2 linked regions of the Homo sapiens genome follow. The protein of the gene in region 1 interacts with the protein of each later gene in a biochemical or structural test. Each region holds a gene or a part of one and is shown in the gene's direction. Other genes may lie near its edges. The genes, in order: KLK7 and CDSN.

Region 1 (7,713 bases):
GTTTACTATTTCTAGTTACTAGAAGATTTCTTCTAGTCTACTTCTAGTTCCTAGAAGATTTCTTCTAGTTTAATATTCTTTCAAATCTCAGCTCATAGTCAATTCCTGGGTCTAACCCCTCTGGAAGTGCCTTCATAATACCCTGCACCTGTCTTTCAGAGCATGCCTTGTAGTTGTAATTTTACACTTGTTTATGAATTGACTGTATTTCTTTTACATGACACTATCAGCTCCTTGAGGGAAGAGACACTATCTAGGTTTGCACACCATTGTATCCTCATTGGTAGATAGCTACCACCCAATCCATATTTGTTAAATATATAAAGGATTGGTGTTAAACTATTGCATAAACAATCAACAACTTTTCCCTAAAAAATAAGAAATCCACTGTATAGAAGAAAAACTAAGAAAAAATTAAATTTAGATGAGAGGTAGTCAGCTATAGGATCCAAATTACTAATTTGTTTTTTTAAAAAAGACTATTCTAAAAATTAAATTGGTCATCTTCACATTAACAATGGCCAAAATGGGATATGGGCTGAAATGGGATATGGGGATGAGGGTTGGGAAGAGAGCTAAGACTGGAGGCATGGTTGAGTTTGTTGATTTATGTGGCTTCAAGATATGGAATCAAGTTAGAATCGGATTTGGATTTGTGGCTTGGGATCAGATTTGGGATCTGAGTCAATATTCTGATTGAACATTGAGGTCTTATAAAGATGATTTTGGCTACAAGGACCAAGCAACTCTAACCCAGAAGGGGAATCTGAAAAATCATGACATGAAGAGGCTCCATCGTTGGTTAATTCACCAGCTCAGTGACTTCATCAAAGACCCAGCTGATCCTCACCTCTCTGGTGGGCTACCTGCAGTGTTTTGACTTAGTCCTCTGGTCACTTCCCTCTGTGGTCCCTGGGGTGCTGCCACAGTTCCAGAATTTGCATCCAGAAAAGACACCATCTAGCAGAAGAAAAAAGTCCCCTTTCAGTGCCTCTTTTTGAAAATGAGAAAGTCTTTCCTAGAAGTGCCTCAGTGGTCTTCCCCTCCTCCTCATTGGCCAGAAGAACAGCACATGTCCATTTTCCAACTAATTAAGCAAACGAAATATGGCTTCAATGCTTGGTTCATTGAGGCTTATAGTCCTGATGAGGATAAAGTATTATCCAAACAAAATGGAGCCTCTGATAGAAAGGCAGAAGGAGTGAATGCCTGGGGACACAACAATAATGTCTACTATTATGGGTCAAATGTAGAATCGAGTTGGGGTGCCAGGCGTGGTGGCTCACACATGTAATCCCAGCACTTTGGGAGGCTGAGGAAGGCAGATCACCTGAGGTCGGGAGTTAGGGACCAGCCTGACCTACATGGAGAAACCCCATCTCTACTAAAAAAAAAAAAAAAAAAAATTAGCCAAGTGTGATGGTACATGCCTGTAATCCCAGCTACTCGGGAGGCTGAGTCAGGAGAATTGCTTGAACCTGGAAGGCGGAGATTGCAGTGAGCTGAGATCGCACCACTGCACTCCAGCCTGGGCAATAAGATCAAAACTCCATCTCAAAAACAAAAACAAAACAAAACAAAGCAAAAAAAAGAATTGAGTTGGGGTCAGGATTGAGATAAGTTTTAGGTCCAGGGTGGAGAAATAAATCCCATTTTGGGGATATAATTTAGAGGTTGAGGTCAATTCCAACTTTAGAAGTGTGTCCAACAATGGTTCCTGTCTTACTCAAAATAAAAGCCAAAGACCTTTCAGACCGCATGTCATCAGAGTCCTGTTATATTTCTGGCCTCATCACCTGCCCTCATCTCCTTTGGTCACTCTGTATTGGTCGCAGTGATTTGTCTGCTGAGGCACTTCAGATATGCTCCTTGGCTAACACACCTGCCTGCTCGCTTTGCCTGGAACTCACTACCTTCAAGCAGCCACCTGGATCCCTCCACCATCTCCTTCAAGACTTTGCTCAAATATCACCTTCACGTGGGGTCTTTGCAGCCAACCTTCCTGATATTATAACCTCAGGGATCCTCGAGGGTAGAGGGAATCAGTAACTCCCCAACCCTCTTCCTTGCTTGGATTTTCCCTTATAGCGCTTACAACCACCTAACAAACTCTACATTTTATTTGCTTATTTTTGTGCTGACCTGACAGTACAAAACAAAAACCTCTATGAAGACAGAAATTTTTCTCTGTTTTATCACTGCTGTGTCTCCAAGAGCCTGAATAGTTTCTGGCACAGAGTAGATGCTCAATGGATGCTGTTTGAATGACTACAATGAACAAAGATGAATGTACAAAGAAGTTCATCTCAGCATTATTATAATTAAAACTATCCAAGTGTATTTCAATTTGAGGCAGATGACATGCATCATGATACAAGTATAGTATGGAATATTACACAACCATTATAAAGGAAGGAAAAGTAATCTAAATGTACAAAGAGGGAAAAGTTTTCCTCTTTTTAAAAAATAAATGTTATTGTGTATATTTAAAGTGTACAATATGATCATATGCGATGTATATACATAGGACAATGATTACTATAGCTGAACAAATGAACATGTCCATCATCTCACATAGTTACCCATTTTCCTCCCCTGTGGCAAGAGCAGCTATAATCTACTCATTTAGCAAAAATCCTTGGCTGGGCGCGGTGGCTCAGGCCTATAATCGCAGTACTTTGGGAGGCCGAGGCCGGTGGATCACCTGAGGTCAGGAGTTGGAGAGCAGCCTGACCAACATGGTGAAACCCCATCTCTACTAAAAATACAAAAATTAGTTGGGCATGGTGGTGCACGCCTGTAATCCAGCTACTCAGGACTCTGAGGCAGGAGAATCACTTGAACACGGGGGAGTGGAGGTTGCAGTGAGCCGAGATCGTGCCATTGCACTCCAGCCTGGGTGACAGAGCCAGAGTCCATCAAAAAAAAAAAAAAATAAGAAAGATTCTTCTCTCCTCTATGTGTCCATGCAGTCTCATCATTTAGCTACCACTTGTAAGTAGGAACATGCCATATCTGGTTTTCTGTTCCTGCTTTAGTTTGTAAGGGTAATGGCCTCCAGCTCCATTCACGTCCCTACAAAGGACATGATCGTGTTCTTTTTTATGGCTACGTAGTATTCAATTGTGTATACGTACCACATTTTCTTAATCCAGTCTATCACTGATGGACATTTAGGTTGATTCCCTGTGTTTGCTGTTGTCAATAGTTCTACAATGAACGTACGTGTCCATGTGTCTTTAAACAGAATGATTTATATTCCTTTGGGTACACACACTGGGGCTTATGAGAGGGTGGAGAGTGGGAGGAAGGAGAGGATCAGAAAAAAATAACTAATGGGTACTAGGCTTAATACCTGGGTGATTAAATAATCTGTATAACAAACCCCCATGGCGCACGTTCACCTACGCAACAAACCTGCACATCCTGCACATGTACCCCCGAACTGAAAAGTTAAAAAAAGAAAAATAAATATTTGCTTATAAATTAATAAATGAAGCCCTCAAAAATGTTCTATTAGATAATGTTAAGTACAGACATTTTTGTTATAAATACATAATATACAAAGAAATCTATGTATAACATGATTAAAATGACCATAAGAACATAGATCCTAAACATGGCAAATATTAGTGGGGTGGGGTTAGGGAAAGCGTTGTTTTTAACTTACACCTCTCTGTTAGAGTTGGGAATGGGTTCAGGCGTAATTACAGGCACGACTGGGATCAGCTTGGACAAGTTCCCCCAGGCGGGCCAGAATTAGGATGTAGGGTCTAGGCCACCCCTGAGAGGGGGTGAGGGCAAGAAAATGGCCCCAGAAGCCGGGCGCAGTGGCTCACGCCTGTAATCCCAGCACTTTGCGGGGCCGAGGCGGGCACATCATGAGGTCAGGAGATCGAGACCATTCTGGCCAACATAGTGAAACCCGGTCTCTACTAAAAATACAAAAATTAGCTGGGAGTGGTGGTGCGTGCCTGTAATCCCAGGTACTCGGGAGGCTGAGGCAGGAGAATCACTTGAACCTGGGAGGCGGAGCTGGCAGTGAGCCGAGATCGCGCCACCGCACTCCAGCCTGGCGATAGAGAGAGACTCCATCCAAAAAAAAGAAAGGAAGGGAGGGAGGGAGGAGGGAAGAAAGAAAGAAAACCGCCCCAGAGAAGGACCCGAGCCAGAGCCTATTCTCTGAGCTCAGCGACTGCTTGAATCCCGCTCCTGCCCCTCAGACCCAGCGCACCGGGTCCCTCCCCCGAGAGCAGCCAGGAGGGACTGTGGGACCAGAATGTGCGGGGGCGCAGGAGCTGGGCACCGCCCGTCCTTCGGAGGGAGGGTGGAGAGAGAGTGCAGTGGTGCCAATTGCTCTCGCTGCGTCAGGGTTCCAGATAACCAGAACCGCAAATGCAGGCGGGGGTGTCCCAGAGTCGGCTCCGCCTGCACCCCAGGGCGCTGGGGCCGGGCATGGGGCGGGGGGTGATATAAGAGGACGGCCCAGCAGAGGGATGAAGATTTTGGAGCCCAGCTGTGTGCCAGCCCAAGTCGGAACTTGGATCACATCAGATCCTCTCGAGGTGAGAAGAGGCTTCATCAAGGGTGCACCTGTAGGGGAGAGGGTGATGCTGGCTCCAAGCCTGACTCTGCTCTCGAGAGGTAGGGGCTGCAGCCTAGACTCCCGGTCCTGAGCAGTGAGGGCCTGGAAGTCTGCAATTTGGGGCCTTTTAGGGAAAAACGAACTACAGAGTCAGAAGTTTGGGTTCCACAGGGAAGGGCAAGATCGGAGCCTAGATTCCTGGGTCTCTAGGGATCTGAAGAACAGGAATTTTGGGTCTGAGGGAGGAGGGGCTGGGGTTCTGGACTCCTGGGTCTGAGGGAGGAGGGCCTGGGGGCCTGGACTCCTGGGTCTGAGGGAGGAGGGGCTGGGGGTCTCGACTCCTGGGTCTGAGGGAGGAGGGGCTGGGGGCCTGGACTCCTGGGTCTGAGGGAGGAGGGGCTGGGACCTGGACTCCTAGGTCTGAGGGAGGAGGAGCTGGGGCCTGGACTCCTGGGTCTGAGGGAGGAGGGGCTGGGGCCTGGACTCCTGGGTCTGAGGGAGGAGGGGCTGGGGCCTGGACTCCTGGGTCTGAGGGAGGAGGGGCTGGGGCCTGGACTCCTGGGTCTGAGGGAGGAGGGGCTGGGGCCTGGACTCCTGGGTCTGAGGGAGGAGGGGCTGGGGCCTGGACTCCTGGGCCTGAGGGAGGAGGGACTGAGACCTGGACTCCTAGGTCTGAGGGAGGAGGGACTGGGACCTGGACTCCTGGGTCTGAGGGAGGAGGAGCTGGGGGCCTGGACTCCTGGGTCTGAGGGAGGAGGGGCTGGGGCCTGGACTCCTGGGTCTGAGGGAGGAGGGGTTGGGGCCTGGACTCCTGAGCCTGAGGGAGGAGGGACTTGGACCTGGACTCCTAGGTCTGAGGGAGGAGGAGCTGGGGGCCTGGACTCCTAGGTCTGAGGGAGGCGGGGCTGGGGGCCTGGACTCCTGGGTCTGAGGGAGGAGGGGTTGGGGCCTGGACTCCTGAGCCTGAGGGAGGAGGGACTTGGACCTGGACTCCTAGGTCTGAGGGAGGAGGAGCTGGGGGCCTGGACTCCTAGGTCTGAGGGAGGAGGGGCTGGGGGCCTGGACTCCTGGGTCTGAGGGAGGAAGGTGCTAGGGTCTGGACTCTTGGGTATGAGGGAGGAGGAGGTTAGGGGTCTGGACTTCTGAGTGTAAGGAAGGAGAGGCCAGAGAAAGGAATTTCTGGGTCTGAGGGAGGAGGGGCTGGGGTTCTGGACCCCTAGGTCTGAGGGAGGAGGGGCTGGGGCCTGGACCCCTGGGTCTGAGGGAGGAGGGGCTGGGGCCTGGACTCCTGGGTCTGTGGGGGGAGGGGCTGGGGCCTGGACCCCTGGGTCTGAGTGGGGAGGGGCTGGGCCTGAATGCTTTCTCCTTCTCAGCTCCAGCAGGAGAGGCCCTTCCTCGCCTGGCAGCCCCTGAGCGGCTCAGCAGGGCACCATGGCAAGATCCCTTCTCCTGCCCCTGCAGATCTTACTGCTATCCTTAGCCTTGGAAACTGCAGGAGAAGAAGGTGAAAGCTGGACTGGGAAGTCTGACCTCACCTCAGGGCCCCCACTGACCCTCTCCAAGGAGTCCCTGAGTCAGAACCCTTCCCTCCTCAAACAGCTTCCATCCTGGGAGGACCAGACTGTCGGCTGAAGCCCCCGCTCTTCCTGCTTCTGCTGACTCAGGGGGTCTCTGTCCCCTCCAGGCCCTGCCTCCTGTGCTCAGGGTCTCTCTGTGGTTCCCCAGATGAGATGCGCCTCCTGGGTTTCTGAGTGGGCTCCTTCTGTCTGTCTCTATCCCTATCTCTTGCTTTCTCTGTATTTCTCCACACATTTTCATCTGTCTCTGTCCATCTCTGACTCTGGGAATCCCTGAGGTGCAGCCTCAGCCTTCCCCTAATGCTAGCTACCCACGTGCTCCTCCATGTCTCCATCCAGCCCAGGGTGACAAGATTATTGATGGCGCCCCATGTGCAAGAGGCTCCCACCCATGGCAGGTGGCCCTGCTCAGTGGCAATCAGCTCCACTGCGGAGGCGTCCTGGTCAATGAGCGCTGGGTGCTCACTGCCGCCCACTGCAAGATGAAGTAGGTGCCGCCCAAGTCTCTGCTGGAGGTGCACCAGCGTCTCCAGCTCGCTATGGGGGTGGAAGGGCAGTCTTTCTGTGCCTACGGCTCTATTCTCCTCTCTCTGGGTCTCTGTCCTCCTCTCTCTGGGCCTCTGTACCCCCTCTCCCTGGGGCTCTGTCCCCCTCTCTCCCTGGCTCTCTGTCTCCCTCTCTCTGGGTCTCTGTCCCCCTCTCTCTGGATCTCTGTTCCCCTCTCTCTGTGTCTCTGTCCCCCATTCTCTCTAGGTCTCTGTTCCCCCTCCTCTCTCTCTGGGTCTCTGTCCCTCTCTCTCTGGTCTCTGTCCCCCTCTCTCTCTGGATCTCTGTCCCCCTCTCCCTGGGCCTCTGTACCCCCTCTCCCTGGGGCTCTGTCCCCCTCTCTCTGGGTCTCTGTCTGCCTTTCTCTCTGGATCTCTGTTCCCCTCTGTGTCTCTGTCCCCTTCTCTCTCCGGGTCTCTGTTCCCCCTCCTCTCTTTCTGGGTCTCTGTCCCTCTCTCTCTGGGTCTCTGTCCCCCTCTCTCTCTGGTCTCTGTTCCCCCTCCTCTCTCTCTGGTCTCTGTCCCTCTCTCTCTGGGTCTCTGTCACCCTCTCTCTCTGGGTCTCTGTCACCCTCTCTCTCTGGTCTCTGTTCCCCCTCCTCTCTCTGTGGGTCTCTGTCCCTCTCTCTCTGGGTCTCTGTTCCCCTCTCTCTCTGGTCTCTGTTCCCCCTCCTCTCTCTCTGGATCTCTGTCCCCCTCTCCCTGGGGCTCTGTCCCCCTCTCTCCCTGGCTCTCTGTCTTCCTCTCTCTGGGGCTCTGTCCCCCTCTCTCTCTGGTCTCTGTTCCCCTCTCTCTGGGTCTCTGTCCCTCTCTCTCTGGGTCTCTGTCCCTCTCTCTCTGGATCTCTGTCCCCCTCTCTCTCTGGGTCTCTGTTCCCCTCTCTCTGGGTCTCTGTCCCCTCTCCTCTCTCTGTGTCTCTCTCCCCCCTCCTCTCTCTGTGTCTCTGTCCCCCCTCCTATCTCTGTGTCTCTCTCCCCCCTCCTCTCTCTGGGTCTCTGTCCCCCCC
Region 2 (3,149 bases), on another chromosome or scaffold:
ACCCCTGCCTCACTGGGAAGGGTGACTCCAGCGGTTTCAGTAGCTACAGTGGCTCCAGCAGTTCTGGCAGCTCCATTTCCAGTGCCAGAAGCTCTGGTGGTGGCTCCAGTGGTAGCTCCAGCGGATCCAGCATTGCCCAGGGTGGTTCTGCAGGATCTTTTAAGCCAGGAACGGGGTATTCCCAGGTCAGCTACTCCTCCGGATCTGGCTCTAGTCTACAAGGTGCATCCGGTTCCTCCCAGCTGGGGAGCAGCAGCTCTCACTCGGGAAACAGCGGCTCTCACTCGGGAAGCAGCAGCTCTCATTCGAGCAGCAGCAGCAGCTTTCAGTTCAGCAGCAGCAGCTTCCAAGTAGGGAATGGCTCTGCTCTGCCAACCAATGACAACTCTTACCGCGGAATACTAAACCCTTCCCAGCCTGGACAAAGCTCTTCCTCTTCCCAGACCTTTGGGGTATCCAGCAGTGGCCAAAGCGTCAGCTCCAACCAGCGTCCCTGTAGTTCGGACATCCCCGACTCTCCCTGCAGTGGAGGGCCCATCGTCTCGCACTCCGGCCCCTACATCCCCAGCTCCCACTCTGTGTCAGGGGGTCAGAGGCCTGTGGTGGTGGTGGTGGACCAGCACGGTTCTGGTGCCCCTGGAGTGGTTCAAGGTCCCCCCTGTAGCAATGGTGGCCTTCCAGGCAAGCCCTGTCCCCCAATCACCTCTGTAGACAAATCCTATGGTGGCTACGAGGTGGTGGGTGGCTCCTCTGACAGTTATCTGGTTCCAGGCATGACCTACAGTAAGGGTAAAATCTACCCTGTGGGCTACTTCACCAAAGAGAACCCTGTGAAAGGCTCTCCAGGGGTCCCTTCCTTTGCAGCTGGGCCCCCCATCTCTGAGGGCAAATACTTCTCCAGCAACCCCATCATCCCCAGCCAGTCGGCAGCTTCCTCGGCCATTGCATTCCAGCCAGTGGGGACTGGTGGGGTCCAGCTCTGTGGAGGCGGCTCCACGGGCTCCAAGGGACCCTGCTCTCCCTCCAGTTCTCGAGTCCCCAGCAGTTCTAGCATTTCCAGCAGCTCCGGTTTACCCTACCATCCCTGCGGCAGTGCTTCCCAGAGCCCCTGCTCCCCACCAGGCACCGGCTCCTTCAGCAGCAGCTCCAGTTCCCAATCCAGTGGCAAAATCATCCTTCAGCCTTGTGGCAGCAAGTCCAGCTCTTCTGGTCACCCTTGCATGTCTGTCTCCTCCTTGACACTGACTGGGGGCCCCGATGGCTCTCCCCATCCTGATCCCTCCGCTGGTGCCAAGCCCTGTGGCTCCAGCAGTGCTGGAAAGATCCCCTGCCGCTCCATCCGGGATATCCTAGCCCAAGTGAAGCCTCTGGGGCCCCAGCTAGCTGACCCTGAAGTTTTCCTACCCCAAGGAGAGTTACTCAACAGTCCATAAGAAGTCAACTGTTGTGTGTGTGCATGCCTTGGGCACAAACAAGCACATACACTATATCCCATATGGGAGAAGTCCAGTGCCCAGGCATAGGGTTAGCTCAGTTTCCCTCCTTCCCAAAAGAGTGGTTCTGCTTTCTCCACTACCCCAAGGTTGCAGACTCTCTCTTATCACCCCTTCCTCCTTCCTCTTCTCAAAATGGTAGATTCAAAGCTCCTCTCTTGATTCTCTCCTACTGTTTAAATTCCCATTCCACCACAGTGCCCCTCAGCCAGATCACCACCCCTTACAATTCCCTCTACTGTGTGGAAATGGTCCATTGAGTAACACCCCCATCAGCTTCTCAACTGGGAAACCCCTGAAATGCTCTCAGAGCACCTCTGACGCCTGAAGAAGTTATACCTTCCTCTTCCCCTTTACCAAATAAAGCAAAGTCAAACCATCATCTGGAAACAGTGGCCACTTTTCACTGACCTTTCTTCGACATCTAGTCAACCCACCCAATATGCCACTGGGCTCTCGCTCCCAATTCCACCCCACCCTCCATTACAGAGCTCACCACGCCCTCCTAGATCACCGTCCCCAACACACCCATTGCCTCTCAAGGCCCTTATCTCAGCCCCTTCCTGTGGCCACTTCCCTCAGTGCTCAGATGATTCCCTGGGTGAGGGAGACACTGGGGCACCCTCAGAGGTTGAAGCAGGCTCCCTGCTGTCCCTGGATCCTGGACAGATGGCTCAGTAAACTGTGGGGACTAGGTGCAGACTTTTTGCCTTCTTGGAGTCCTGGGTCTCCTCTGAGAGTCTGGGTGGTGCTCTTCCTACGCCTCTAGAGGTCTCTGTGTTCCTCATTTTCCTTCAAAAGCGGGCTGTGTTTCTCTTCTACCTTCCAGCTGCTCCCACAGAGGAGGAAGACAATAAATATTTGTTGAACTGAAAGCAGAGATTGCCTGGCCTCCCAGATCCTTCCGCCATTTCCCTCCTCTCTCATTGCTCCAGGAAATCCATTCTCTTCCCATTCCTCATTCACCGTGGGGTCCCCCTTCCCCTTATTTAGGGCCCTCAGTGTTTCCTCTCCCTCCCCTCCCCTCCCCTCCCCACCCAAACTCCTTTTCTTCCACCATTAGCATTCCTCACCTTCTAGATGCCATCCTCTCTGGGAGTCATGAGTCTCGATTTCCTGGGTTTCTGGGACACCTGGAAGCTTGGGAAGGCTGGGACACAACAACTCCAACCAGATTCCTGTCAGCTGAGTAGGAGGCCAGTTGGGCGTTGTTCCTGGAGCTGGGGGTGGAGAGAGTAAAGGACTGAGAGGATGGGAGCAGGGCAGGGAGTGCAGCCAAGCAGGGTGACTCACTGGCCTAGATCAAGAGGCCCAGCCTGTGGCAGAACAGAGCTGCCGGTGGTCTCTCCATCTTCACACTCCCTGCTCTGCTGGGGTCCAGAGTGAGAGTGTGAGCAACATGGCTCTCAGGTGAGGGCTGAGAAGGCAGAGTGCCCCAGTGGGAAAGAGGAGTCGCTTCCACTGGAGAAGAGAGAGAAAGTGGAGTGTGTGGTGGGGTCCATGCGACTTAAGTCCTGAGACAGGCAGGGAGAGGCTGAGGCGGACGAAGTTCCCGCATCCCAAGGAGGGCAGAGTGGATTGTGCTTGTCCCTGTAGGAGCCCCACCCCCCACCCCAGGCCACCTCTCAGAGCCTCTGCTTGGCTGCAAAGGAATTC

Evidence for each region.
Region 2: of the proteins of KLK7 (region 1) and CDSN, one has a biochemical effect on the other in vitro, tested with the Homo sapiens proteins (one study listed by BioGRID).

Annotation. Positions count from the first base shown.
Region 1 is NC_000019.10:50,980,703-50,988,415, reverse strand, and holds the start of KLK7 (kallikrein-7 isoform 1 preproprotein), read left to right. Parts: upstream 1-4,565; intron 4,566-4,600; exon of another isoform or gene 4,601-4,644; intron 4,645-5,958; coding exon of another isoform or gene 5,959-6,016; coding exon 6,017-6,089; intron 6,090-6,501; coding exon 6,502-6,649; intron 6,650-7,713. UniProt on the Homo sapiens protein: May catalyze the degradation of intercellular cohesive structures in the cornified layer of the skin in the continuous shedding of cells from the skin surface. Specific for amino acid residues with aromatic side chains in the P1 position.
Region 2 is NC_000006.12:31,114,309-31,117,457, reverse strand, and holds the end of CDSN (corneodesmosin precursor), read left to right. Parts: coding exon 1-1,433; 3' UTR 1,434-2,371; downstream 2,372-3,149. UniProt on the Homo sapiens protein: Important for the epidermal barrier integrity.